Linked DNA regions of Homo sapiens. The protein of the gene in region 2 interacts with the protein of the main gene of each other region in a pairwise test. Each region holds a gene or a part of one and is shown on either strand. Other genes may lie near its edges.

Region 1 (7,794 bases), on a different chromosome or scaffold from region 2:
TAAGGTGTTGATAATAACCTGAAAGTATTAAACCAAGAAGAAGGATGCTGAAAGAAACAATAAAACTCAGAAAATAGAGTAGCAAACGAGATTTTTGAGAAACGAAAGGAGAGAAAGGCAAGGTGAACACTGTTTTGTCAGCCAGAAGTGAGTCATTACTGAGCACAGAATTAATGCTAGTGATATACCTGTGTTAAGATGGGAGGAAGCCACATATTCTAGAGGAAAATGATGCATGATAAACAGCTTGAGTCATCACCTCTAATGTTTAATTAAAAGTATCCAGAAGGCTGTAGATCTACACAGAATCTTTTTACTGCTTTATTATTATATAGGCAGTGCTACCTTTTCTCAAATACCAGTATATTCAATAATAAAAATTGATTCATTGAGTACGTTTAACCACATTTTATGACCTTTAAAAGATGTCTTCATAGTATGAATAGGATATGTTCCAAAAGTTAGTCTATAAATAAATTGCTGGAACATATCCTCAGCAGCTTAAATGACAGGTTTTATGGTATGTTCTGGGAAACTATTTATCTAACTAGGTGTGATTAAAGTGCTAATAAGACATAAACCACAATAAACATTAACAGCTCTTTCAAAACTTAATAATTACAAGGCACCAAACAAAGTGATTTGCATACACAATCATACTTAATCCCCCAAACACTATAAAATATGTATTGTCTCTCTTTTATAATAGAGGGTACTAAAGAAAAAATATTCAATACATTGCTCAGCTCACACAGCAAGGAACAAAGTTAAGATTTGAATTCAGATTCAACTGACTCAAAGCTCTTACTCTTTACCGTTATCCTAGTCTACCTAGGATAGGTAGTTGAAATAGTTGCATGCTTTATATACCAAGAAGTATACTTAGGTTTTCTGTAGAATTCACACCATACATTTTAGCAGAACTAAGGGTATGTGATGACTGTAAGGTAGGGTCATCCACAAAAGAAGTATGGATAAATTACCATAGGAGCAAAAAAAAGTATTCATAAGCAATGGCTTACAAAGCTGGAGCATGGTTATTTGTATGTTTAGGATTGTTTAGCTTTGAATTTGCTTTTTACTTATTGATATGGTTCCCTAAAATTTATTTGCAGTATATTTAATTTTTGTTTTACAATCAATAACAGTTCACAGAAGAAAAGCTTGGCCAGGCTGAGAAGACAGAATTGGATGCTCACTTAGAGAACCTCCTTAGCAAAGCTGAATGTACCAAAATATGGACAGAAAAAATAATGAAACAAACTGAAGTGTTATTGCAGCCAAATCCAAGTAAGAAACTCTACCTCTTGTGTACCTTAAGTACTATTAGTGGGTTTTTAAATGTTAAAAAAAAAAGTTTTAATGGCCATCTGAAAACATAGGATTTTTTTATTGTAGCTTCAAGGTCAGTGGGTTTTTTTGTGTGTGCTTTTGTGAAGAGGAAGTGATAAACAGCTATGTACCTAACCAATTTTAAAATGATATTTTTCAGTCTTTTATAGAATCCTTGTAAAAAATCTCAATTTTAGGCAGTGACTTTGAATTTTAATTTATGAGCAGCTGTGTATATAAATATGTTTTCCTTTTTCATCTAGGGAAGAATTGTCCCTAGATAATTAAGACAAAGTTATATAGTTGCTTAAGTAGGTACCATTTTTTATGTTTAAGTTTTTGGTGTGTTTTTTTGTTTGTTTGTTTGTTTGTTTGTTTGTTTTTTGAGACAGAGTCTCGCCCTGTCGCCCATGCTGGAGTGCAATGGTGTGATCTTGGCTCACTGCAACCTCCACCTCCCAGGTTGAAGCAATTCTTCTGCCTCAGCCTCCCAAGTAGCTGGGATTACAGGCATGTGCCACCACGCCCAGCTAATTTTTTTTTGTGTGTGTGTCTTTAGTAGAGATAGGGTTTCACCATGTTGTCCAGCCTAGTCTCGAACTCCTGACCTCGTGATCCACCTGCCTCGGCCTCCCAAAGTACTGGGATGACAGCCATAAGCCACTGCGCCCCGCCTATGTTTAAGTTTTACATTTTCACATAAATTATTTCATTTCATCTTCAGACAACTATGAGATTTTCAGATAAGTCAACTCAATAATCTTGCAGTTAAGGTGCATAATTGTTTAGTGAATGAAACTCATGAGTTAGCATCTTGTCAAATGTAGCATAGCTAATTAGAAGTGGAAATTGGACTAGAACCGGGTGTATGAACATCCAGTCTTTTCACTGTGAGCTTTGCATATCAAAACTGAAGAACAAAGGTACAATGTATGCTTTCCTTCTTTTTTCCCCAACTTGTTTGGGACCAAGTTGTGATATGACATATGCTTACTTTTAGATACTAACTTAAACTTCAAGCACTATATAAATATTAGCAGTTCTCTATCATTTTAGTTAAATAGTAGTGACTTTTTAAATACACCTTTTGGTTGAAAAACTTAACTGTTGAGTTCTGTGCTCAGTACCTGGGTAACAGGTTCATGTGTACCCCAAACTTCAGCATCATTCAGTATACCCAGGTAGCAAATCTGCATGTGTACTCCTTGAACTAAAATAAAAGTTGGAAATAAAATAAGCTTTTTGCACTTTGAGTGAGTCCTAATGTCTTTGGACACCATGTAATATTTTTTATTCATTTAAGGCCATTTAAATTCTACACTCTGGCACTTTTATTAAAAGTAATAGACATTTTTCCCCTTGTTCTAAACATATTTTTCTGAATGGGAAATAAGCTCATTCACAACTGGTAAACAGGGAAATAAAATACAATTTCCTCCTGCCCCTGTTTTGTGCCAGGAAGTCGTAATAATTGTTTTTGTTTTTTGTTTGTGCTGTGGTTTTTTTGTTTTGTTTTGTTTTGTTTTGTTTGAGACAGAGTCTTGCTGTGTCACCCAGGCTGGAGTGCAGTGGTGTGATCTTGGTTCACTGCAACCTCCACCTCCTGGGTTCAAGCGATTTTCCTGCCTCTGCCTGCTGAGAGTAGCTGGGATTACAGGTGTCCACCACCATACCCGGCTAATTTTTGTATTTTTAGTAGAGACAGGGTTTCTCCATGTTGGCCAGGCTGGTCTCGAACTCCCGACCTCAGGTAATCTGCCCGCCTCAGCCTCCCAAAGCGCTGGGATTACACGTGTGAGCCACCATGCCCAGCCTGTGCTCTGGTTATTAAGTTACATAGGTTTTGAGCAGCCAAACCTAACACTCCTTTTCTTGTAATTCCTATGTTGTTTTCAATGTATGATCTTCTGGAAATGGGTTTTTCAAAAATACGTTATGCAGAAATACATATTACATTGTAGCAGAGTTGCCTGCATATTTAAGATTTTATTATAACCTATTGAAATTAAACATTTATTAGTATTCCAAATATTTTATTAACTGAACGAAGTCAGCATAAGATTCCATTTTAAACTTTTGGCCAGATAGGTGGAAAAGCAGTCAAAATTAAGAATCAGAGTCAAAACACAAAGCTGTTTTTTTTTTTTTTTGAGACAGAGTCTCACTCTTTCACCTGGGCTGGAGTGCAGTGGCACAATCTCTGCTTACTGCAAGATCTGCCTCCTGGGTTCAAGTGATTGTCCTGCCTCAGCTTCCCGAGTAGTTGGGATTACAGGCATGCGCTACCACACCTAGCTAATTTTTGTATTTTTTTTTTTAGTAGAGACGGGGTTTCACCATGTCAGCCAGGCTGGTCTCAAACTCCTGACATCAAGTGGTCTACCTGCCTTGGCCTCCCAAAGTGCTGGGATTACAGGCATGTACCACCACACCGGGCCAAAATGAAGTTCTGAAATTTAACTAGTATCTTCTAAATGGTTATGTTTTAAAAAGCTCTTTTTGGTTTTAACTATTTAAAGGTATTTAATTTCTGCTTTAAAACTTCTGATTTTGTACTAGAATCTACCACAAAAGCAAGTATCATTGCTATACTCTATTTTATGTATTATAACTAAGCCTTTTACCAACTCCTGAAATGTTTCTGTTACTGGTTCAGCTCATTTTTTAAATTTTCAGTGCACTGTGTGAAACTTCCGCATGCGTAGGAATCTATGTGAGGTACTTAGAGGGAACCTATTTGACTTAGCTTCAATTTATGCTTAATCGTTGTTTCTGGAAACTTAAGCCATTTTTTCACTTGTCCTGAAATACCTCTAGGTTGGACAGCATTGTAAATGTTAATATCTTTGGTCTTAAGCATTTTGCTAACCAAGTGTTTATTCAGCTTTTGTTTTTTTCCCCTTTCCATTTATTCTAATGTTCTATTATTGCTTTAACCTTTCGTATTTTAAACTTATTTTTAATGATGAAATCTTTTGAGTGAATGCATGCTCAGAGATATACTTGTATACTTTAAACATAAACTAAAGCCAAGGCATCATATTGCTGATCTGTCTGTAGACTATTCCAAGCCTGGATTGTTCTATGCCTTAAGCGCCTGTGTCTATATTTAGACTCTAGGCAAGAAAAAGAGAGAGCAAATGCTCATGCTAAAGCTGTCAGATGTAAGTCTTTGGTTCTTCCAGGTACTTTATATCTGTATTTTCCTAGCCAGAAATCCTGATTTTGAAATTATGAATGTACATTCAGAGTAAAAATTAGAGTTAAAATGCTACAAACAGGGCAAAGACACCTTCAATAAATATTAAGTGAATTAATCAGTCCTTTTCTGGAACTTAAAATCTTGTAGAATACTCAAATAATAATTTTATTTTATTTTAAAATGCTTTTGTGCCAAGATATTTTATCAAATTTCTAAAATATAATTTTTTAGTTATATAATAGTCTAACATAAAATTTAAAAAATTATTTATTAAGATATGTGCTTGAATGAATGCTAACTTTAGGAGATGATAAATGGCTGCTGATGGGGGAAAAAAACAATCTTCTAATTAGTTTTGCTTTTTAGAAATCATTGGTAATTTTAACCTTTCTCCTAGATGCCAGGATAGAAGAATTTGTTTATGAGAAACTGGATAGAAAAGCTCCAAGTCGTATAAACAACCCAGAACTTTTGGGACAATATATGATTGATGCAGGGACTGAGTTTGGCCCAGGAACAGCTTATGGTAAGTGAAATGCAAAAAGTTCTAATAAGGGATATCTTTATGTTTAGATTTATTAGAGATGTCATTAACATATTAGTAGGCCGGGTGCAGTGGCTCACACCTGTAATCCCAGCACTTTGGGTGGTTGAGGTGGGCGGATCATGAGGTCAGGAGATCGAGACTATCCTGGCTAACATGGTGAAACCCCGTCTCTACTAAAAATAACAAAAAATTAGCTGGGTGTGGTGGCAGACACCTGTAGTCCCAGCTACTTGGGAGGCTGAGGCAGGAGAATGGCGTGAACCTTGGACGTGGAGCTTGCAGTGAGCCAAGATCACACCACTGCACTCCAGCCTGGGCCACAGAACGAGACTCTGTCTCAAAAAAAAAAAAAAAAAAAAAACATAGTAGTAGAATTGGTTTTAACTTCAAATTTATGTTAAAAATTTTTGATGAAGTGAGAAATATAGGCAAATATATACAGTTAAATGTAATATTTAATATATTCAAGCATATATTTAGTTATTCAGAGAATTCACATCTTTTTTAGTTCTAAAAAGTTTAATGAATTCTTCACTTGTTCTCCCAGTGATCTTACAATACCTATGTTATAATACTTGTGATATTGCAATTATTGTTTGCATATGTCTCTTCATTTTTAAAAAAGCTTTCTTAGGGCTTATTTTATGTTAAAGGTACTTGGCACGTAGTTCTTGAACAAATCAGTGCTTTTGTTATAATTTTGCAGTAATGTCAGTAACCAAAAAATATTAACAATTGTTATCTCTGGATATTTGGATTACATTTCATTTCTGTTTTTCTCTTATGTATTTCAAATTTTCTATAGCCGTGGTTTAGTTACACTCGCTTTATTAGTTGCTGTACAGACTTTAAATGTATAGCCCTGAAGCTCAAAGTTACATACACATCTTTATTGTCACTCTAATTTTCTCATAACATGAGACTGTTACAGATTTCAGTAGCTTCTTTTCCTGTTGTTTATGTCTAATAATAATTCTCTTTATACATCTGCAAGATACTGGTCTTTGGATATGAAATGGTAGGTAGATTAAATTAATTTCTACACATAGTTCTGATTTACAGAATGGTTTATAAATTCTAGGATTAAATGAATTTTAAGCTTTAGTAGTTATCTTTATGTCAGAAAGAAATAACCTAAATATTGTTGAATGCCACTAATCCATTGACAGGCTTTTTTAGGTACACAACTTTGAAACTTCTACATTGTGTTCTTCAAAATCTAATTTTTAAGTTTGAAAATGCTTAGAACTTCAAAATAAAATTATTTCTGAATTTTACTGTTAATTTTTAGAAAAATGTTATACATTAAACAGATGTTTTATTGCCTACTTGTGCCAAGCTCAGTTAGATGCTGGGATCATAAAGGTATGTGAAAGGAACCCAGCAGCCCCTTCCTTCACCAGGCTGAAGAAGGTTTTAGCAGAGCATGAACATTAGTAAAGGCTTCTAGATTTTCTTCCCTTTTAAATCTGCTTAATCTGTTTGCACCTCTAGTAATTCTAGTGAATGTACCCTGGTTATTAGAATTGGGCTTTGTGAACCTATTACCTTATTAGTAATTAATACTAAAAATTGAGTATCACAGGCATGGGCTAAGCATTATATAGTATATATATTTACATATTAATTCTCATTTATATCCTGCTTTTAAGATAAATTATATTACCTTCATTTTAAAGACAAGGAAACAGGTTTGGAGAAGTTAAATAATTAATCCACAGTCACAGCTAGTATAGTAATTCAAATGAAGATCTGTCTGTATCCAGTGACGGAGCTCTTAACTACTATCTGTATTACCTTCCTTATCAGTCAGATCAAAGCTTATCCTAACATGAAGGGATTAAGATCCTTAGAGCTAAAGCTTATTAGAAGTAAAACTAGGAGTGGAACCCTGATCTTGGGGCTTCCTTTCTTTCTACTCTACTTTGTACTGTACTTGCCCTATTTAAGTATCAGAGTATATGTATTGCAAAAGCATGGATTTTTTAACTTAAGATATCACTATGAACTATTACTTATAGATACTTCAGATGATAACTGCAAGGATGTAGAAACAGGACAAATTGTGACTTGATCTCTTGGAAGCATTATACTTTTATAAGTATAACCACAGTCACCCCTCGATATCCATGGGGGATTGGATCCAGGCCCGCCACCCTGAGGATACCAAAATCCATGGATACTCAGGTGTCATATAAAATGGCATAGTGTTTGCATATAACCTATGCACATCCTCCCTCGTACTTTAAATCATCTGAATGTAAATGCTGTGTAAATAGTTGTTATGCTGTATTTTTTAGGAAATAATGACAAGGGAGAAAAGTCTGTACATGTTCAGTACAGAGGCAACCATCTTTTTTTTTTTTTTTTTTTTTTAATAGTGACAGGCCCTGCTGTGTTGCCCAGGCTGGCCTTAAACTCCTGGGCTCAAACGATCCTCCTCCCTCAGCTTTGGAGTAGCTGGGACTGCAGACATATGCCACCACTGTGCCTGGCTCCTCAGCCATCCTTTTTTTTTTTTTTCTGAATGTTTTTGATCGTGGTTGGTTGAATCCATGGATGCAGAACCCATAGATACAGAGGGCCGACTGTGACCGTAAATATTTTGGGGTATATTTGCCCTCTTTAGTCCCATTGGTAGAATTGGTACAATTATCTATGCTACAATAGGAAGTTCATCTTTGTCTCCTTCATTTAGACACATACTCTTAAA
Region 2 (7,794 bases):
CGGCGGCGGCGGGTCGGGCGCTGAGCTGTGCGGCCAGGCTGGGCGCGGGGAGCCGCGGCAGCGCGGAGGCGCTGGGTATCCGAGCCCAACCTGCGTCCCTGCGAGCCCCTCCGGCTGTTGCTTGCGCTCGGGCTCCCTAAAAGCCGCAAACCGATTTCGCACAGAAGGCATTTGCCTCTCGTTTCGTTCCCCAAACGCACCATAGCTTTGGACGTGGAGAGGTGCTGTGAATTTTGGAAATGTCTTTTGGAAAACCAATAGGAGTGTTGGAGAGGGGAGTTTGGCTTTGGGGAGTTTAAGTGTAGGGTGGTGTTTGGAAAAGGTTTCATTGCGAGTGAATGTGGGTGTCTTTGTATCCGTTTGTGAGTGCATCTGTGGGAGAAGGAGAGAGAGAGAGTATTTCCACACTATTATGGATCAGAGGTGAACACTCAGCCAGGTGCTCCGTCCACTAGTCCACGGACAAGAAACTACAGATTCAGTTTTGGGCTTCTATTTACTGGTGTTTGGGAATTTGCCTTAAGACAGTTGAAGCCTTGTGACTCACTGCAAAGTTGACTATACTGGGAATAAATGAATTCCTGATAGGACTTTGCAGCCGAGAATCACCCTTCTCTTTCTTGTCTCCGAAACCGCAAAAGAGATTGCATGATTCAGGAAAAAAATTAAAACAACAACAATAACAAAAAACCAATATATATAGGTTTCAGGACTCTCCATCGTTTCATTCCACTGAGAGTTTTGGAATGTACTCCCTGTAGGATAAATGAGGACTACTGTATACTCAATATGAAATTCTTATTCACTGCAGGATGTTACTGACTTAATAAAAAATGGGAAGATTAAAAAATTAGTGCAATGCTTTGTCTCAGCTTAACTGCATCTGTATATCAAGTTTTTCCAAGTTTGAAATGAAAGCTTTTTTCCCTCCTATATTTCCTTTTTTTCTCCAACTTCCTTCTGATTCTATCATACTTTTTCCTGGAAAAGTTTTTCCCAGTGTAAGATTGCCTGTTTGCTTTCTTTACCTAAACTGACCTTCCCTCAGTGTGATTTTGGTTTGTCAAGATCATCTTGGGCTTAGGGCCTCAGTCTTGAGTTCCTTCATGGGACCATGGATGTGAGCGGCACAAAATATTTTAAAAGTTTTCTTTCCTTGGGCAGGTGAAAATAGTCTTCACGATTTTGGATTGTCTTTGCAATTGCAGGACCTGACTTACGGGGTCCTGGTAAAATATCCCATTCATTGGAGTAAAATAAGATAACGAGATAATTAGGTCAGCTCTGTGTAAGCTAGACAACTCTTTAACAACCACTTGGCATATTTAATATATTATACCCCTGAAGTACAGGGCTTGGGTGATTTTCTGGAAGGTGCTTTCTCACTTGATTCCACTTATACTATTCTTTCAAAGCCAAGTTCCCCCCTTCCACCCATTTTGTGCTTTATAACTAGCAGTTTTATTGGCTGCTTGTTTTTTAACTGAGTCTCAACCTCTTTGTGGAAGTAGGTGACACCATGGAGGAGGGTGAGTGAGAGGCCACACCAGCCTTTGGGTACCTGTCCACTCTGAAAATTGAGCTCCTGTTGACCTGCTGTGCAACACTTTCCAGGGTCATCCCAGATCCAAGCAACTGGGTCACCAGTCTGTGCTTGTTGAGAACCCAAGAACCATTTTGTTTTGTTTTGTTTTGTTTTTGGCAGGGTCTCACTCTGTTGCCCAGGCTGGAGAGTAGTGGCGTGATCTTGGCTCACTGCAACCTCCAGCTCCTGGGCTCAAGCAATCCTCCCACCTCAGCCTACCAAGTAGCTGGGACCACAGGCACCATGCCTGGCTAAAGTTTGTATTTTTAGCAGAGATGGGGTTTTGCTATGTCACCCAGGCTGGTCTCGAACTCCTGAGCTCAAGCAATCTGCCTGCCTCTGCCTCCCAAAGTGCTGGGATTACAGGCGCAAGCCACCACGCCTGGCCTCAAGAACCACATTTTGATAGAATCAACTTAAAAGTCCACCAAACCCACTGTGTTCCTGAACAGACTTCTTATTCTATTGAAATTGCTGAAATTGGGTCTTTTGTAGATGTAGCCTTAGAATAAAACATGAAATGGAAAGCTGCTGTAGTCTAAAACAGGAAATGGAAAGTTAGTTACTGAACTGACTTGAAAATGCTGAGAGCAGCTATGATGAAAAGTGGGGCATTTGCAATCAGAAAGAATCCCTGTGGTTCTTCCCTCATTCACCAGTGCTTTTTTCCCCAGGGAAATGAGTTTGTAAGACTCAGAAAAGGAAATGCCACACCCAGCTACTTTTGTTCTTTCAGTTTTTAAAAAAGATACCCTTAGATGTGTAGTAATTTAATTTCCTGTTTTGAATATCTTGTAAAATTACATATTTAGGAGTTTCTGAATGCTAGTTTATCTGACTCATAAACCAACTCATTGTTCTACAGCTTATCAGTTGTATAAAGTTCTACCCCCAAGGCCTCATTGTGGTGTGATTTCAGAAATGATCAGCAAAAAACCAGGGTGGTTCTGGAACACCTGTGCCCACGTTAATTTGGTGTTTGGTTGTGTTTGCAGAGCTGCTGAAATCTTGGAGGGAAGAAAACACATCCCACCCTGCCTCCGGGAAGGGGCCTCTCCTGGACATGTCTCCTGCAGCTGCTGCTGAGCCAGATGGGGACCAGCAGGACAGACACGTCAGCAAACTCATCTTCTGCTTCTTTGTCTTCGGCGCCGTCTTGTTGTGTGTGGGAGTCCTGCTCTCCATCTTTGGGTTCCAGGCATGCCAATATAAGCCCCTCCCAGACTGCCCCATGGTGCTCAAGGTGGCGGGGCCTGCATGTGCCGTGGTTGGGCTTGGGGCTGTGATCCTGGCCCGCTCCCGGGCGCAACTTCAGCTCCGTGCAGGGCTGCAGAGAGGTCAGCAGATGGACCCCGACCGAGCCTTCATCTGTGGAGAGAGCCGCCAGTTTGCCCAGTGCCTTATCTTTGGGTTTCTGTTCTTGACAAGCGGCATGCTCATCAGCGTCCTGGGCATTTGGGTCCCTGGATGTGGCTCCAACTGGGCGCAGGAACCGCTAAACGAGACAGACACTGGCGACTCAGAGCCCCGGATGTGTGGGTTCCTTTCTCTGCAGATCATGGGGCCCTTGATTGTGCTTGTGGGATTGTGTTTCTTCGTGGTTGCCCATGTTAAGAAGAGAAACACGCTGAATGCTGGCCAGGATGCCTCTGAGAGAGAAGAGGGACAGATCCAGATTATGGAGCCTGTCCAGGTCACTGTAGGTGGGTTGCTGTTATTTGCGTTCTTGCTTCTATCACAGTGGCTTTGCAGCAGGGTTTCACCAGCTGCTCTTGGTTCTCGTCTGGATTCTCTTTCTCAATTCTTCCATCTCTCACACATGTGTGTGCACACGCACACACCCCCATCATGTGTACATACACAATGGTGCTGCTGTGGGAAGCCCCGTAGGAACCTTGTATACATCTTTTCCCCCCCAGCAACTCTTTCCTACTTTGCAAAGCATTGGGATATTAAGTAGTGACCTTGACTGAGGTCACAGAGCAAATTAAGAGGAAAGTGAGAAGAACCATGAGGACAGCCTTGGAGCCTTCTGCCACCTTAGGGACTCACTAAGTGACCCTGTTACCCCTGTTATTCTCACACCAAAACCACATAGCATTTTAGTTGTGGGACACTTGGTTTCTCCTCCCAGGCTGTCACTAGCTGGCTGTCCTTGTAAGTCCTTAACCTCTCCTGCCTTGGTTTATGTCTCTATAAAATGAGCAGTGCCTCTCTAAGATTCCTGCAGCACTAACATTCTAGGATTCTGGATCTGTCTGAGTCCAGCAGTCTCCAGGTGTTTTGAGGGGCCTCTGCACTGTCTCTGTGTTGTCCTTCTTTTTTTGTGACATCATCCGTGGCTGCAGGGCTGAGGCAAAGCTTGGAAGCAGCGGGATGAACCAAGATGGAATATGACAGCACCTTTCTCCCGTGGAATGCCTACAAGTTCCTTTTGGGTCCCCCGGGTTCTACAGAAGAGATGGAGTGCCATTTCCCAGAGCCTGCCCCCTCAGAACAATAGCAGTAGCGTTGGCCTCAGCTTCACACAACCAAGGAAAAACCCCATCGCTGTTCATTGGCAGATCACTTTTTTTCAGTCTCCTACTTTTGAAAGAGTAAAGTTGTGAAACCACTGACATTTAAAAGGCTAGGAAAAGAGATCTTCAGAACAGAAACCATGGAGAGGACAGAGAGGGAATGTGACAAGTGAGATGCATCTCCTGTTTGGGGCTGTCTACTGGAAGCAGTGGAATTCACTGACTGCAGCCTGGAGGGGAGGAACTGGGTTGCTGGACTTGCATGGCACCAGCCTTGGAGAGGAGGGGCAGATGGATCTGCAGCCATTCCTTGTGTAGAGCCAGGGTAGATGCTCCCAGCTTATTTATTAATATATTTATGCATTAATATATTTATGGTGACAACACAAATATTAGTTATATATTCACAATAGCTAACACTTATATAGGGTCTATTTTTGTGCCAAACACCCATTTAAGTGCTTTATCATGTGCTCTTAAAGGTCCCCTGTGTGAAATTCATTCACACCTACAGCAATCCAAGGGGGCAGATAACGTTAGTACCTCCATGTTACACAGGAAGAAGATGAGGCATGTAGATATCAAGTGACTTGCCTAAGGTCACACCCTAGCAAGTGGTAGAGCAAGGTTCCAACCCAAGTGTCTGGGCACACCCACAGAATAGCCCTTGCATAGCACCCTGCCCAGGGCACGTGGGTGTGATTCCATTTTATCCTTCACCAAGTGTTCCTGGAAGTTATTACATGAAAAAAGGGGCTCCCTTTAATTTGATAGATGTTCTTAGTGTTCTTGAGGAACACCGTGGGGTACAAGTAAATATGTTCATCCAACGCTGCTATGCTTTCATCTAGTTGGGAACGGTTCGAGGGGAGTTTTGGGGCCCAGCCTTCCACCTGGTAGCTGGAATCAGAGTGGACAGAGCTGTGGTGCTGCTCCTGGTGTCCTTGTCCTGAAGTTGGCACTGCATGGTTTAAAATCTTTTCTACTTAACTCTTTAAGTCCCCATCAAACCTATGAAAATCTTGCATCCTAATTCCTCTCCTTTGATATTGTGGAATAGGGTTTACATTTTTAGAATCCAAGAAGCATGCTCTCCTTGTTGTGGGTACACTCAGTGCTATCCTGGATACACAGCAGGTATATGAGACAGCTCTCCTTGGAGGGGTGTATATGTTGTCTGCTCACAGAGGACATCAAGTTCTGAAAGACGCATGAAAGGGAACTCGCAGAGGAGAGGCCTCTTTCCAGGGAGAGCAGGTTGCAGGGTGTGGGCAGGCGGAGCTGCTGGGCCAAAGGGCTGGAGACCCTTGGAGGTAACAGGGTTACTGGAGCATATCCTTGTGTGTTTTTGAGAGGTGATTGGCCTGCCCTCAAGGGTTACTTCACAGGTTCTTTATTCTACAGTGTGTAATGGAAGTGAACACAACCCCAATTCCTCTAACCTACCAAGACCTTCTAAAAAAGTAAATGAGAATCTCAGGACCGCTATTATGCTTTCTCACCTTTAGATTAGCAAAACGTATTTTAAACTCTCATTGCCTTCTCCTTGGAGAAGGAAGGGGAGATGGAATTAATGCATTTTCTGAAGGGCTAAATTCCCTCTGGGAAATGATTGAGGCTGCTGTGGCTCATGAAGGGTAGAGAGTGGAGCCAGTGGCCAATTGCCTCTGTGGTGTTTCTTCATCATGCAAATCAGTGCCCTCGGCTGGTGTTGAGCTGAGAGAGTTGGCTCTGTGCTCCGCACTGTGTTCACTGCCAGATGCAAATCAGTCCATCTAGTCCTTCCTTCTATCTGTCCTGTGATGCAAGAACTGCCTGGCCTGCAGTTTACAGCTGTGGCGGCTGAGGTCAAGGAGGTCGCCTAGCTTGTTCAGGTTGGAACCCCCATCACTTTAAAGAATCCTATGCCACCCTAAGCAAGCATCAGACATGCTAGGAGTGTGAACCACTACAGGGAAGTAAAGCCCCATCTTCTTCATTTTTTCTGAACTGTTATTGCTATTGCCAGCTTCTCAGAGGCTTTCACCAGGCCCCCAGCAGTGGTGCTGCCAGAGCTCTACACTGTTCTGGTCCACTTGTGTGGTGCATTTTATATTGGAATCGGAATACAAATTAGAGTTTGCATCTGGTCCCTAGTTTCTCCTCAAAACATGAGGATGTATTCTGGAGTGAACAGTAGCCACAGAAATGCAAAAACCAAACTTCTTTGGGTTCAACCTTCATCTGTATGGGTGAAATTTTGGTAAATAACAGTTAGGGGCTGTAATATGGCTTACTGTCATTTGCTCAGGGGCTGAAACTACATTTGAGGAACAAGGCACTTTAGCCAACAGCTAACTTGTGAATTAAAGTTGTAGGCTGAAAACGAGAAAAGCTTTTTCAGCAGTAGACACCCCAGAGGAGGGAAAGGAGCTTGTTAGCAAACAATTCACAAAAAGGCTTGGTCTTAGACTTGCTACAAAATATAGACCTGCTTTCATACCATAATTGTCAGCACTCTGGATTCTGAAATGTAGGCCTACTTTTAAAAAATTTGTGGTAAAAAAAAAAAAAAAATATATATATATATATATATATAAAGCATAAACAATTTAAACTGCTTTTTGTTTCGTTTTGTTTTGTTTTGAAACAGAATCTCACTCTGTCACCCAGGCTGGAGTGCAGTGGCATGATCCTGGCTCACCACAACCTCTGCCTCCCGGGTTCAAGCAATTCTCCTGCCTCAGCCTCCCGAATAGCTGGGATTACAGGCGCCTGCCACCACGCCTGCCTGATTGTTTTTTCTTTGTATTTTTAGTAGAGACAGGGTTTCGCCGTGTTGGCCAGGCTGGTCTTGAACTCCTGACCTCAAGTGATCCACCCGCTTCGGCCTTCCAAAATGCTGGGATTACAGGCGTGAGCCACCACGCCTGGCTTTTTTTTTTTTTTTAAGACAGGGTCTTGCTCTGTCACCCAGGCTGGAGTGCAGTGGTACAATCATAGTTCACTGCAGCCTAGAACTCCTGGGCTCAAGCAGTCCTCCTATCTCAGCCTTCCGAGTAGCTGGGACTGCAGGCGTGTACTCCCACATCTGGCTAAATTTTTTCTTTTAATTTTTTTGAGATGAGATAGCGCTGTGTTGCCCAGGCTGGTCTCCAACTCCTGGGCTCAAGCGATCCTTCCTCCTCAGCTTCCCGAAGTGGTGGGATTATAGGTGTGAGCCACTGCACCCAGCCAAACCGTTTTTAAATGGTTTAGTGGCATTGAATACAGTCACAATGTTGTTCAACCATTATCATCATCAATTTCTGGAACTCTTCCATTATCCCCAACAGCAACTCTGTACTCACCAAACAGCAATTCCCACTCCCTTCCTCCTCCCGAACCCCTCCTAGCCCCTGGTAACCTAGTCTACTTTTCTATCTCTATACATTTAATGGGCTTACTTTTAAATTTTGGAGTTAGCAGCAGGTGTGTTGACCTTTTATATAGATGGGCCAAATATATAATTAATTTTGCTTTTGCTAATTTGCTTCCATTTATTACCCACCTGTTGTCAACTAAATATTGTTTTGCCTTAGGTGACTCGGTAATAATATTTCCACCCCCTCCACCACCTTACTTTCCTGAATCTTCAGCTTCTGCGGTCGCTGAGAGTCCTGGAACTAACAGTCTGCTTCCGAATGAAAACCCCCCTTCATATTACAGTAT
Region 3 (7,119 bases), on a different chromosome or scaffold from region 2:
TTTGCAATCCTTCTGGCATGACTTTGCTATTCATGTCCTTATTCCAGCTTATTCAGGGAATATTCATCTTGTTTGTATTTATTTGATAGTAAAAATATCACCTTAACTCTTTGTTATATTTAAGATTGCAAATACTTTCCTTTGTTTGTAGTTTACCTGTAAATTTGTGTCTGGTAGCATTTTAGTGGTCAGATATATTAAATGTTTTTATATGGAAATCTTTTTTTCCACTGCCATTTCTTCTTTTTCTTCTATTCTTAGGAAGGTCTTTATTTTGAGATAAAATAAACAGCCATTATATTTGATTCTATATCTTTTATAGTTTTTTTTTAAAAACTTAACTCTAATTATCCTTGAATTTATTTTGGTATTGTGAGGTAGGCGACTAAGTGTATTTTCTCCCAAATAACTAACCTAGTATCTTAGTATCTCAGCATCATATTTTTTCTAATTTATTTTTTTGAGACAAGGTCTCCCTCTGTTGCCCAGGCTAGAGTGCGGTGGCATAATCATGGCTCACTGCAACCTCAAACTCCTGGGCTCAAACAATCCTGCCACCTCAGCCTCCTGGGTTGCTGGGAATACACGCATGTGCCACCACGGCCAGCTAATTTTTTTTTATTTTTTATTTTTTGTGGAGATAGGGTCTTGCTATTTTGCCCAGGCTGGTCTCAAACTCCTGGCCTAAAGTGATCCACCTGCCTTGGCCTCCCAAAGTGCTGGGATTACAAGCATGAGCCACCATGCCTGGCCCTCAGCATCATTTTTAAACGTTCCATTCTTTCCCCACTCATCTGAAAACAACATCCTTATCAAATACCAAATATATATATATATATATATACACACACACACGCATACTGTATATACATAATGTATATACACATACACGTACATACTGCTGTATATATTTGTGTGTATACTGTGTCTTGTCCTTTGAACTGTTGCTCTATTCTTATACCCACCTAACACCTGATTCTAGCTTTCTAATACATTTTAGCAAATGCAGTGCACGTTATTATTCATTATTCATTTTTCCCTAAACTTTCCTTGTAGTCATCACCCATGTATTCTCTCAGTTGAAGCTTTATAATCTAATTCTGTATTCCTTTGAGTCCAAGATGTGCTTCTTGCAATTGGATTCTGTGAGACTTACCCCATAGCTTCACAATTCATTCTTTTTTTCTTTTCTTTTCTTTTTTTTTTTTTTGAGGCGGATCTCGCTCTGTCGCCCAGCCTGGAGTGCAGTGGCAAGATCTCAGCTCACTGCAAGCTCTGCCTCCCGGGTTCACGCCATTCTCCTGCCCCAGCCTCCCAGGTAGCTGGGACTACAGGCGCCCACCACCACACGTGGCTAATTTTTTGTATTTTTAGTAGAGACGGGGTTTCACCCTGTTAGCCAGGATGGTCTTGATCTCCTGACCTTGTGATCTGCCCGCCTCAGCCTGCCAAAGTGCTGGGATTACAGGAGTGAGCCACTGCGCCCGGACTCTTTTTTTCTTTTTAACCCAGTCTGAGTAGATTTCTGTTCCTTAAGGTTTTATCTCACCTTACTCTCTCTCTCCACTTCCTCTTTCTATGATATTATCTGAACAGCTGACATCTGTCATCTTTAGAAAGAAGTCCAGATTAATATAAATAAAAAGCTAACATTGGCCGGGTGTGGTTGCTCACGCCTATAATCCCAGCACTTTGGGAGGCTGAGGCAGGCAGATCACTTGAGGTCAGGAGTTCGAGACCAGCCTGGCCAACATGGTGAAACCTTGTGTCTACTAAAGATACAAAAACAGACAAAAATTAGCCAGGCGTAGCAAAAGGGTCAGTATGGCTGAAGTGAATACAGGAAAGTAGTAGATAAGGAGGGAAGGGCATGGGGCTTTCGCAGATTATGGCTGGAAACTTTGCAGGTAAAGATTTCTTGAAATCGGCCATGCACACAGTGGCTCACATCTGTAATCCCAGCACTTTGGGAGGCCAAGGCAGGTGGATCACCTGAGGTCAGGAGTTCGAGGCCAGCCTGGCCAACACAGTGAAACCCCGTCTCTACTAAAAATACAAAAATTAGCCAGGCGTGGTGGCTATCCCAGCTACTTGGGAGCTACTCGGGAGGCTGAGGTATGAAGAGTAGCTTGAACCTGGGAGGCAGAGGTTGCAGTGAGCCAAGATCGCGCCCCTGCACTCCAGCCTGTGCAACAGTGAGACTCTGTCTCAAAAAAAAAAAAAAAAAAAAATTCTTGAAACCCTTCCCAAAAGGCCTTAGATTTGGGAATAGGAACTGTGTATTAATAAGGTTCAGAACCACCTGGCAAAGATAGTTGAGTGTCATGGTTACAATGCGCTTAAAGCTGAGGGATGAAGGGAAGGGGTATGAATGGTATTAAGGAAAGTGAGAAGAGAGACAGTTCCATTTAGTTTCTTAAACACACTAATGCACAGTCAAAATGATTCATGGTACAGAAGAGTTTGAGAGCAGAATGACAATGATATGTGATCAGAATAACTAGATGAGGCTACCCTGAAAAAAGTGACATTCGGGCTTAATATTACTGATGAGGTACAGTGCAAACTGGCCTTGGTTTTGATCTTCCAAAAGGCATGCTGCCACAACATCCATCTGCCCCACAAGTGGGCTGGATAAAACTCAAGTTATTTTAAGAATATTGAAGAATATTTATAAGGCAACTACATACAAGATAGAAGAGTACAGAAGTCAGATTTCTGTAACCATTTAATGTAAGGCATGTGCTTTAAAAAAATCTATTGCTTCTGCAAAAGGCAGATGTATAGTGGTTAACTGCATGGTCTTTGGCGGGCAAACAGAACTGGGTTCAAATGTCCATTTTGCCACTTAATCCTGTGTGACTTTGGTTAAGTAACCAACTCAAGCCTCAGTTATCCCATATGTAAACTGGAAATGATACCCCCAACCTCAGAGAGTTGGTGTATTAAATGAAATAAGGTGTTTAAAGTGCACAGCACTGTAACTGCTCAATAAAATTATGGATTTTTCCTACTAAAGATGCATTGTATGGCAAGATTTCTCCTGTTCATTATGCATACCTCTTGAAATTAAAGGGACCCAAACTTACACTGCTATCAAAATACATGCAGACAGTAAAAACAAAGGAAAGGAAAAACATTTCATCAGAATTCTAAAGGCAGTTCTGGCATTCAAAAAGTATACACATTGAAGTTAAAAAGATGACCCTCCAAGTTGACTTTTTAGATACACTGTAACCCTCACAGCAACATATATCGAACCACTCTTCCTAATTATCAGTCAACTTAAAGTGCTTCTTTCAGAGGCCTCATGAGGTGGCAGTTATGAAGGCCATTTTTTGACTTAATTACAAGCTATTAAACGTCTTTCAGAAAATGAAACCCTATTATTCTGGAACTATGGAGGGAGCCAATGTCTAATTCCTTCTCCCACCAAAAATACCTCTCATGTAAAAAGGAGTATGTTTATGTATGTGTTGTTGTTTTATCCAATTATATAAAAATTAAGCATTAGACTAGATTGTAAGGAATTTAAAGGAAATTCACAAAATGGATAGCTCCTCCCCTTGCCCCACCATATCCCTGAGGTATATCTCACTCAGAATGAAATGAACTTCAACAATTAGTATAGTTCATCAATGCAGACAGACATACGCGGAAAGTACGTTTGTTATGATGTTCTTACATTTGTTAGATTTCCATATTTTGTTTTTGATGTTTTCTTGTAATTTCCATGACTAAGTAGGTCCCCCTATTTGAGGTGTCTGTACTAAAGGTTCTGTACTAGTGCCTTCCTAATGACGGGACTTGGTTAAGTTGCAGATCTATGAGATCCTATGATTCCTGTTGACAATCCAAGAGACTAGAATTCAAGAAACTTAGATTATACAATTAAGTCTAAGCTCTTAAGGCTGAGCATATGGAATAAAAATGAGGTTATCCATAGTGGTATGGAATGTATGATCTTTATTAATTTTTAATCCATCAATCTAAAATCACACATACTAGATCAAACAGAAGTACCACAGTATGCTTTATTTTGCAGGTATTAATTGGTTCTCTAAATCGATACATCCAAAACTTTAGTTAGCAGCAAGCATCAGTTCTTCCAAAGCAGCTTAGGTGAAAAACAATTGTTTACATTCACCAGTTCAAAGTCGTACTGTCTGATCCACTGTTGTATTGACATAAAATTGAACTCAGTAGGCAAAGCTAATTGAACACTCAGCTCATAGATTTTGAGCTTCCTTTATCTTATTGGAGTTGAAGCAGTTTTTAACCCTCTGTTAATATTCTCTATTTTAATTCTCAAAGAATTAAACACACATATTTTCTAATTAATTAAGATAGAGCCATGATAACTATTGAGGAATTAGTGATATTAGTCTCATACCCAAAAGGTAGAACACTTTTAAATGAACCCATAATTTTGAATGTATCTGAATTTCCAGTTTATATGCTTAGCAAGGTCACAAGCTGATTTTATTAATCTGGCTTCTAGATAATCATCTCAAAAATATGTATTGAAACAAAGCCACTGTTTTTTATGATGACATCATTTTAACCAAATGCTTTTATAACAAATAAGCAGTTGTTCTCAAAAGAGAACATTTTAAAAGAAAACATTCTTTACATACTTAGCAAATAGAGGAGAGTGTGAATCTGTATGTCAGAGCTATAGAGTTCTAGAGGAGTTGTAGTTGAGCAATCTAACTTTCTACTCCAGTTTTTGAGATGTACATGTTTTTGAGATGTACATATAGAGAAGGCAGTAAAGAAAGATCTTGATAAATTTTCTTTAACAAAAATTTGTAATTCCAGTTATTGGCAAAGGGTTCTGGCATGAGTTAATGGCAGCAATACAGTGGTGAGCTTCTGCATTGTGCTGAGAGGTAGATTGGGACTTAATCCTTGGAATGAATAACCAACTCACTTTATTTAAGGTTCAGGCTTAATTTTTTTAATCCAAAAAAAATTTCTGAAGTGAAGGCAGATCTTTGGGAACTTTTGTTTTTAGTTAAATGTAGAGATAAAATAGCTTGATAAAATAAACATCTGCCTTATACTAATGACAGGTGTACAAAGCAGCCATTTGAACCCTAGACAACTTCAACACTGCTTCCAAATAAAAGGGCAATTCAACAGCTGAACCAATCAAGCAGACACAGGGATGAGTGGTCTCCAGTACCTTACTCCAGAAGCCGGAGCCATTAGCAGTCCCTACAGGGATATAAGTCTATATCAAGATCAACAAATGTACAGAATAATCTTAGTCCAGCTTTGGCTAGGCAGGCATCTGACTGATGACATATCAGGGCCCACTAACCTCTAGAGTAAGCACTTGTTGCTGTGAGAAAAAAGAAATCAATATATTAAAAATATCAACTAGAGCATATTCACATAGGGAATGGGAGAGTGCAGGAGGCACACAAACAAAGTATATAGAGTTTTTGTTTTCAGTGCAGGATAAATGAACCTTCTTAACAAGTTAAGGCTCTGAGGGAAAAAAACTTTCTAAACCATAACCTTAATAAACCATAACCCATACAGGTGTTCCAAATCAACACCTTTTTTAAAAAAAGCTGGAGGTCTTACTTCATCCTTCAGTATAAATGTCAAGTCTGAGATAATCAGTATATTCCAAACTCTAGAACAACAACAACAAAAAAAGAAATCTCCTTGTTAAAATATAGTAGCTATTAACAGTAATGAAGAAGACAGCCAAACTTTTGCTATTAAATACAATATCATGAAGCCATTTCTTTCTTAACTAACAGAAAAATACAGATTTAAATAATGCTGATCAGGAGGTGGGGAAAGGAAGTCTTATCATGAACCAAATTTCGTGTCTGCCACCAATGAAAATGAATCCACTATGTTCTTGAATTTATTTCCTGAAGCAAGTTAAATTCTTTAACACCTTTGATTTTGCAAATAACATCAAAGTAGTAAAATATAAGTAACTGTAACATATAAAATTACACATCAGCAAAAATGCTTTCATAATTGGATCCAGGGGCTTAAAATCATTATTTACTTAAAAAATTCTAAGCCACAATTTTTCTTTTAATTATACTTTAACAAAGGAAGAAAAAAAACAGAAAAAAATTGGTCCTAATATATTTTGTCTTAAATAAGTGTACTCATGCCCAAGTTAGCTAGGAACTCACTGAAGTTAGTCTGCATATCTTAAACAATCTATTGCACAGCATGTCCTGGCTTTTAGCCAATGGAAACGTAACTTCTAATTGAAAAAAACAAACAAACACTAGATTTAACTGATTACACAGACTGATAACCAGTACGACTTTTCCTTCTTCCAATCATATAAGAGATAAAGACAACAATTATAAGGAAGCCCAAGGCCACACCCACTGCAACAGGAATAAGAAAGTTGAGGTCAGAGTCAGCAGAACATTCTTCAGCTGTTAGAAAAGAACAGACAGCAAGGAAAGGAAATTAGCAAAGAATGCAATTAAGTAGTAAAAAGCATGCAAGAAACATGCATTTTGAAAGTGTACATAGCTTAGTTTTTTATAGCATTACCTCTATTTTCTTATTTGCTCAATATCTCATTATCACTTTATCTAAAATCACACGAAATTCCTCAGTACGAAAAGCAGAAGGTAAGGGAAGAATGGGAAGGGTCCAAAATAGAGAATTGCGCTTGCCTAATATGGGAAGACTTTAGGTTTGATTATCTAATGACACTGGGTTAAGGAGCCATCATCTACACTTAAAACCACTGCCTGTGTATTTCCCTACTCTCTTTCTCTTCGTCACACCTATAATTAAAGTATAAATAAGAATTCTGTATAAGTAATAAAATTTAAGTTAAAAAAGACTTAGGATCAAGAATGTAGTATATATATACATATATATGTGTGTGTATATATATGTGTATATATATGTATATGTGTATATATATGTGTGTGTGTATATATATGTGTGTGTGTGTACATATATATATATATACACACACACACAATTATTTTTAGCTGAGCGGTGGCCTGGAAGAATAACAGCAGTATCTAATGCGTTGCAGTCCATTCCACCGAACCACCAGGAAAGCAACATGTGCAATGTAGATTTTGAGTTCTGGATTCAGACAGAACTGTG
Region 4 (7,794 bases), on a different chromosome or scaffold from region 2:
ACGGGAGCTGAGCGTGGAGGCCTCATGGTGAGTGAAATGGAGAGCCATCCTCCCTCGCAGGGTCCTGGGGACGGGGAGCGGAGATTGTCCGGCTCAAGCCTCTGCTCCGGCTCTTGGGTCTCTGCTGACGGCTTCCTGAGGAGACGGCCCTCGGTAAGGGATCAGTGGGGCAGGGGGAAGGCGGCACAATGAAAAACGGAGTGAGAAACAGGAAGCTTTCTCCGAAAGGAGAAGAAGATAAGAGTGGACGAAGGAAGAACTCGAGATGGTGGGATATGTTCTGAGGGAGAGAAGTGGAGGGTGGAAATGCACAAAGAGAAGGATGTGAGACCCTGGAAGTTCCCCGTGGGCTTGGCCTAGACAGATGCGTGGTGAAGGTGCTGGCTCTTGGGCGGGGTGAGCGTCTTGGAGCTTTAGGCCCGATTTTAGCTGGGAGGGGGAGGCAGGGGCTTGATACTGTAAGACTTTAACAGCGGCTGCCAAAATTTGTTTTCATTAGTCGTCGGGGTGGTCTGCAGGGGGAACTGTTGGGACAATTGGCAGGAGATAATTAGGTGGTTTTAATTTAAAACATAGAACAATGGACTCATCGGTAAAGAAAGTAGTTGTCTTTTTAAACTGCGTTAAAAAGGATGAATTAGTTGTTTGCATTTAGTGTCCGTGAGTGACAGAACCTCAGTCTTTGAAAATGTATTTTTGGCAGAAGGAATTTTACCTGTCTTAAAGGTTATGTTAGGAAATAAGTTTGTTAGGAGTGAATTGTGCCTGGGTAGCCATACTGTTTGTGTTTTGTAAGACCGACTCTCACCTGAGTTAATTGGATAGAGCATTTTAAAGTTTAAAATCAGTAGTGTTATAAAATAACAATAGCTGGCTATCTTTTATATCTGCATGAAATAGGAGAGTTGTTGTTTTCACCATAACAGTTTTAAAATTAGTATTCAATGTGTATCCTCCAAGCTTAGCAAGCCAATTAGTAGCTGGTTAAGTCAGTGCTTAAAAAAAAGAGAGAGAAAACCTATGATCCAGCGGTCCAGGATTCATCTTAACTTTTCCCATTTTTTTACGGAATTTGCAAGCTCGTTTTAAATACTAGCAGAATGCGTTTTGTTTGAAACAAGGTATAGACTAATCCAATGATGTTATTACACATAAGCTTAATATTATGTCGCTTCAGATAACTGATCTGTTGAAATGAGATTTTTGAGAAGCATTTAGTATTATTTGCTCATTTAAAAATGTTCACTGTTTTTCAGATGGGGCACCCTGGCATGCATTATGCCCCAATGGGAATGCACCCTATGGGTCAGAGAGCGAATATGCCTCCTGTACCTCATGGAATGATGCCGCAGATGATGCCCCCTATGGGAGGGCCACCAATGGGACAAGTAAGACTGTTTTTGTTTTATTTTGCATTTATTTATTTGTTTTTGCCTCAGGTATTCTATCAAGATTTCAGAATCTAGGTCAGTAGTTATAGCTGTTTAATGATTAGTTTATGCCCGAATAATTTCAAATAAGCCAAATGTTAAATCATGACTGTAACGGAAATTTGAATAATGGAAAAGTCTTCTGAGAAATTTAAATAATGAAAAAGTCTTCTGAGAAATTTACTGATGACCTCAAAACTAAGAATTTTTTTCTTTATTATTTAAAAGTAAAGTGTGGATCCAGGCTTTTATTTTTAATGATTATTTTTTCAAGAATGCCAATTGAAGTTGATGGTCTAAGTAAATATTATCTGATACAGCAACATAACTGATTTTGGTAGACCATGTAAATAAATAGAATCTGAAAATAGCTATTGTTTTGGTTTAGAGCGAATTTTATTCCTGAAATATCTTCCTCTTTGTGTGTTGGAGGAGGGTGAGGGAGGGTGGGGAGTTTGTGCTCTATAATTCTGATTCTTCATAGGACAGTGCCAATAGGTAGTTCATTTTCCACTTATACTATTTTTTTTTAATGCTTGTTGCTTCTACACTCCTGCTTATGAGCTGTCCCTTCCATCTCTAGCATAAATTGTAAATGGACATTTTGTAGGAGTGATTTGGATCAAAAGGTTTTAATGCTGATTCAGTGATTTCGGTAGAACTGAGTTTCTAGAGAAGCATCCAAGAAAGGTAACAGGTTCAGTTACCATGAGTAATTTTGTGCTTCATGTTAAGTTCTATAATAGATCTTTAGGTGGCTGGGTTATTTCCATTTGAGTATTTCCATAAATCATCAAAAATTTAGGCTAACAAAATATTTTGGAAGCCAATTTCATGTGATCTTTTGCTAATTAGTACTGTTTGATAATTGTTTAAGCTTTCATGGTTAAAGTTATTGGTGAAATTGCAGTGGGAAAAGGAGCTTGCTATGTGTCTGTCTCTTTTTACTTAACCTTAAGAGTAGAAGGGCTTAATGTCCAGTGATTTTCCTCTTTTTTTTTTTAATTTGGAATATTGCCCTTAATTTTGTTAAAAAACAAAACAAAACCTTTATTCAAAGGCACCAGCCCCAAAAGATTCTGCTTGCAGGAGTTCTTTAAATAAAAGAGCCTTTTATTCTGTTACTCTAGAATAACACAAATTTTAAAACTCTCTAGGTGATGGAGAAACAACTTTGATTCCTCTTCTGTTTCTTTCCATCTCTAAGGAGCAAGGAGCTCTTCTTGTTTTCTTGGTAGAGCTGCTCTAACTAGATAATGAGCTTTAAAAATATTTATTCTTTAAATGCTCTGGTTCTTATTTAAAATTAGTTTCTTTCCACAGAAAGATAAAATAAAACAATTTGCTACTGCCAGATGCTTCTCTCTTTTCTGGGGCCTTCTGTTTCCATTGGGCCAATCAAGGTAAGTTTTGCAAGGGATTGACCTGCTTACCCTTGCTGTAATGGTGCTATTGCACTACCAAAACCAAGATACCAGCTAGTCATAGTTCTAGTTAAAAAAAAAAATGCAGATTTTATTTTTTAAAAGTACTTTCATGTATCTCATTGACATAAGCTGGTCACAGTTTGCTTTATGGCCCTTTCTCTTTAGCTGTATCAGTGACCATCTTTCTAGTAAGTTTACTTGCTACTCGGTACACATCCATTCAAATAACTGATTTTTTTGGTGTGGTTTTCTTCTACTTTTTCCTAGGCTAATATATGCCACGTGCCTTTAAGTAGACCTAATTATTTAGATGTTTAGAATTCTTCTCCCTCTGAAGGCTCCTGTTAGTATAATAAATAAATGTTTTAGTAGGAGTTATGCCCTGAAAGTCCCAAAAGAATCTCCGCTGTTTTTGTCAGAATTATATAATTCCCTTTTATCCCCTTAATATTTCACTAACAAATATGGGTCCCAAATCTTGGTAAAACAAATTCTTGTTTTAGCTTTATAACAGACTGGGAGAGCATGGATAATTTGAATTCTCAAATCAGAAATCATATTTGAAACTCTGTAAACATTGCTTTAAAAATTAAAGGTGATAATAAATAGGACAATTGATCCTTTTTCCTGCATTATTTCTTCTGCCACTCTTGGAAGTACTCAGGAGGAATAAGTGGTCAGAAGATAATTGAGAAGAAGCAGGATGTCTGTCTGTATCATTCACAGTAGTGACAGTTGGGAGGGTTCTGCCATGCAATTTAAAAAAGTCAGTTCACAAATTCTTTAGACTTTGGGACTGAAGGTTATAAAAACCTTCATGTGTTGACTGGTTTGCATGAACATCTCATGCTGGGACTAGCTAAAGACTAAAATTGGTGGCAGTCTTACTTGCCAAATAATTGTGGTCTTTGGAATGTTACCAATATGACATGAAACTGTAAAACTTGTTTGTAAAATAATATGCAGACTGGGTAGCATAATGATGTACGGAAGCCAGGGTTCATAATTTCTCAAATGCATCAAGCTATTTAGCTTAAAGAAGTGGTGTGTTCAAATTTTTTTTTTCTTAATTCATGAGATGACCTAGAGTGCCATCTCATGCATTTAGGCTGACTCTTAGTAGTAATAAATATTTGATGATTATCAAATTGAGCTTAATATTCTTTCAGGTTTATTTCAGTTTTCTATCTTGTAGATTAAATTTGCCTCTTATTCTATATAACTTTATAGGAAAGTCATACTTTTAGAGTTATAGGATCTTATAGCTGAAAGGGACCTTACAGGTTGTTTAAGCTTTAAATAATATGTGATTTAAGATGCTTTGAGGATCACTGGTTAAATGTTAGTAAAGAAAGATAAAGAATTTTCCCTGCTGGATGGCAGTACTCAAAAATTTCCCATTGGGAGGCTGAGGCGGGTGCATCGCTTGAGCTCAGGAGTTGGAGACCAGCCTGGGCAACATGGTGAAACCCCATCTCTACAAAAACTATTTAAAAATAAGCTGGGTGTGGTGGTGTGCGTCTGTCGTCCCAGCTACTTAGGGGGCTGAGGCAGAAGGATTGCTTGAACCTGGGAGGTCGAGGCTGCAGTGAGTCAAGATCACGCCTTGCACTCCATCCTGGGTGACAAAGTGAGACCCTATCTCAAAAAAATAAAGATTTTCTGTAGAGATTTCTATCAATAAAATTATGTGTGAGGCTGTCTTCTTCCTCAGTGTCCATAGTAAATACTGTTTTCATGTCTTTTGTGTTTTCTACACAAAGGACATGCAGGTCCTGCCATCTTTATCACAGATGATTATGCCTTTGCCCCAGAGTCATGCTAGCTGGCTCTTTTTTTTTCCTCCCTATTTGAGTCTTTATTTTCCTCTATCAGTGAGAAGAGTAGAGTAATTGAGTTAAGGTCCCTTTCAGCTCTAACATCCTATGATTCAGTTCAGATCATTTGATAAGAGTAGATATCAGATTTTATGGGATGATATGGAAAGAACAGAAAATTCCTTTAGTAATGCCTCCCTAATTCTATTTATTCAGTGCTTTTTTTTTTTGGTCTTTGGTCAGTAAACTGATAAATGAATAATTGCTTTTTACAAATGAGTTTGATTTTCTTGCTCCTATATTGAGTAAGGCTGGCTCTAATAGATCTTATTTTATTTCAGTTCCTGCTACCACATGAGCCCAAGTCGTCACTCTCCCATGCCTAGGTTATTCAACAGTTTTTGAGTTGAGTTGGTTTTCTTGCTTCAAGGATGCCCCCCTGCCCCCACAAATTTTAGATTTCAATGTGTTATCTCCTTGCCCAAGAATCTCCAGTACTTTCAGTGCCTATAACATAGTATCTAAATTCCACAGCTTAACTTTAAAGAACCTCCCCATAGTACATGTCAAAGCAGGATTCAAGGCTGCATGTCTTTACACTCCCTAATTTGAACTTAGGCTGGTCTTTTCACGGTGTCTTGAGTGATTATATTAGTTCACAACTTCAAACTTAGGCTGTTCTTCTTACCCTCCTGCCCCCAGCTCAGTATCACCATGAAGTTTGCTTTGCTTACCTATGTTGTACTATTTCAAGTCCTGCCTTCTCCAAAAGTTTCTCAAAAATGACTTTTGCCAACATATACCTCCCCTTCAGATTATTAAAGAAAATATTTGTAATCTACCCATAACTCTTACCGTTTCACTTATTTTGGCACCTAGTTATTGACTTGTTTTATGGTTTCTTAATTTGCTTTAATTTTCCAACAAGTAATAGATTGTAAGCTCTTAGAGGGCAGGGGCTATGTTCTGTACTTTTTAAGAAGCCTATAGGTGCTGAGCACAGTTCTTGGCACATCATGGGTGCTCAGTAAAATACTTGTTGAATGAATGAAACAAATACACAGGTATTCTTTCCTGCAGTATAAGCCCATAAGTCAGTCAGTGTTAAATGTGACTGTTTCCAGTGGTTACTTGTGACTTTACGTTGTTACTACTTATTCTTGTTTTTAGTGTCTGCCTCTTTACTCTTACTTTTTCATTTGACAAAAATGGAAGATAAATAAGATGAAATAAATAATTTTTGTTTGGAGAATAAAACTAAAATATTTCCATTTGCAGTCGACCCTCTGTATCCAGAGATTCAAGCAACTGCGATGGAAAATAGTCTTTAAAAAAGCAACAACAAAAAAATACAAATTTTTAAAAATAAAGTATAATAACTTTTATAGCATTTACATTGTGTAAGGTATTATAAGTAATGTAGAGGTAATGTAGAGGAAAAAATAACAAAGTAGGATATAGGCCTTGCAGAGAAATTTAGTGTATTGGTACCTTAGACTTACCTGACTGATTTGACAAATTTATTTGTTGCTGTTCCTTCTGAATTACCCTTCCTTTTGAGTAGCTACAGGATCCATGCCATTGAATTGGGCATTAGCCAGTGACAAAAAAGAGATAGAATTTTTGTTTTTTAGGTCATCTGCTCATAATTCTTGAATCTGGGTAACTTCTGGGTACATGTGGATGACTCAAGCAAGTACTTTTAAAAAATATCTTAACTCAGACCTAATGTCTGTAAATTCTTGACTCAATGTGGTTAGATTTTTGACAAATGTTAATAGTGAGACTACAAATACGTTTATTTTCATTATCTTTAGATAGCAGTTCATTTAAATATGAGCTCATCTATTCACAAACTTAGTGTGGAAAGATCTAAGGAGGACCACATCAGTTGAGAAGAATGACCGGCATCCCCTGCTCCCCTTTTGAAATTCACAAGGCATAATATTTACTAAAGTGATGAGAAGTCTTGCAGAAGCCTTTTACAATTTTTACTTAGTATTTCTGTCTTATTTGACCATCTCCCCCATAAATCTCCCACATAAAGCATTTGTTTTGCTTTGTGTAGCACATTGTATGAAATTAGCATTTTGTGAGAAATGCTGAATTAGGGCCCTTTATTCTTTTAGTTTGCTCTTTAGGAGAAAAAGGCAACATCAAAATAAGTTAGTGTTAACACACATATGCATAAACGAAACAGCTTGTGTAGTGCAATGAATGTATTCATTAGATAGTGGATCAAAAGAGGAAACAAGTCAATAGATTAACCTTTGATTTTTAAATTAGGCTTGTTGAATATCATGATAAGACTAATAGTAGTATTAATAGATAGTAAAGATTTGAGGCTAGGCACGGTGGCTCATGCCTGTAATCTCAGCACTTTGGGAGCCCGAGGTGGATGGATCACTTCAGGTCAGAAGTTTGAGACCAGCCTAACCAACATGGTGAAACCCCATCTCTACTAAAAATACAAAAATTAGCGGGACATGGTGGCGCACACCTGTCATCTCAGCTACTTGGGAGGCTGAGGCAGGAGAATTGCTTGAACCTGGGAGGTGGAGGTCTCAGTGAGCTGAGATCGCGCTATTGCACTCCAGCCTAGGCAACAATAGCAAAACTGTCTCAAAAAAAAAAAAAAAGATTTGGTACATATGCTACACCATAGCAGTGTACTAGGGATTTTGGGGTTTGTTTGTTTGTTTGTTTTGAGACAGAGTGTCTGTCACCCAGGCTGGAGTGCAATGGTGCAATCTCCACTTACTGCAACCTCATCCTCCCAGGTTCTCCAAGTAGCTGGAATCACAGGTGCGTGCCACATGCCTAGGTAATTTTTGTATTTTTAGTAGAGTCAGGGTATCGCCATGTTGGCCAGGCTGGTCTCGAACTCCAAGGCGCAAGTGATTCTCCTGCCTTGGCCTCCTAAAGTGCTGGGATCACAGGCATGAGCCGCCTTGCCCAACCTGTTTTTAACCTAGAGAAATAGGTCCATGTTGTGAAGGTTTATAAGTAGGAATTAATAGATGACATTCCAAGTAGAAATTATCAGTCTCATTCTTATTTTTTTCCTTACCTTTATTTTTCTTTTATTCAGTACACATTTAAGTATCTTGGGTGTGGTAC

Evidence for each region.
Region 1: the proteins of TMEM171 (region 2) and SH3GLB1 interact in binary tests that used the Homo sapiens proteins (3 or more experiments, as listed by UniProt).
Region 3: the proteins of TMEM171 (region 2) and LAMP2 interact in binary tests that used the Homo sapiens proteins (3 or more experiments, as listed by UniProt).
Region 4: the proteins of TMEM171 (region 2) and PRPF40A interact in binary tests that used the Homo sapiens proteins (3 or more experiments, as listed by UniProt).

Annotation. Positions count from the first base shown.
Region 1 is NC_000001.11:86,714,576-86,722,369, forward strand, and holds part of SH3GLB1 (endophilin-B1), read left to right. Parts: intron 1-1,148; coding exon 1,149-1,290; intron 1,291-4,931; coding exon 4,932-5,060; intron 5,061-7,794. UniProt on the Homo sapiens protein: May be required for normal outer mitochondrial membrane dynamics. Required for coatomer-mediated retrograde transport in certain cells. May recruit other proteins to membranes with high curvature. May promote membrane fusion.
Region 2 is NC_000005.10:73,120,726-73,128,519, forward strand, and holds part of TMEM171 (transmembrane protein 171), read left to right. Parts: intron 1-2,580; 5' UTR 2,581-2,648; coding exon 2,649-3,288; intron 3,289-7,664; coding exon 7,665-7,794.
Region 3 is NC_000023.11:120,422,202-120,429,320, forward strand, and holds the end of LAMP2 (lysosome-associated membrane glycoprotein 2 isoform A precursor), read right to left. Parts: 3' UTR 6,426-7,119; coding exon of another isoform or gene 6,283-6,425; 3' UTR 3,947-6,282; downstream 1-3,946. UniProt on the Homo sapiens protein: Lysosomal membrane glycoprotein which plays an important role in lysosome biogenesis, lysosomal pH regulation and autophagy.
Region 4 is NC_000002.12:152,709,589-152,717,382, reverse strand, and holds part of PRPF40A (pre-mRNA-processing factor 40 homolog A), read left to right. Parts: coding exon 1-153; intron 154-1,256; coding exon 1,257-1,388; intron 1,389-2,753; exon of another isoform or gene 2,754-2,785; coding exon of another isoform or gene 2,786-2,833; intron 2,834-5,015; exon of another isoform or gene 5,016-5,079; intron 5,080-7,794.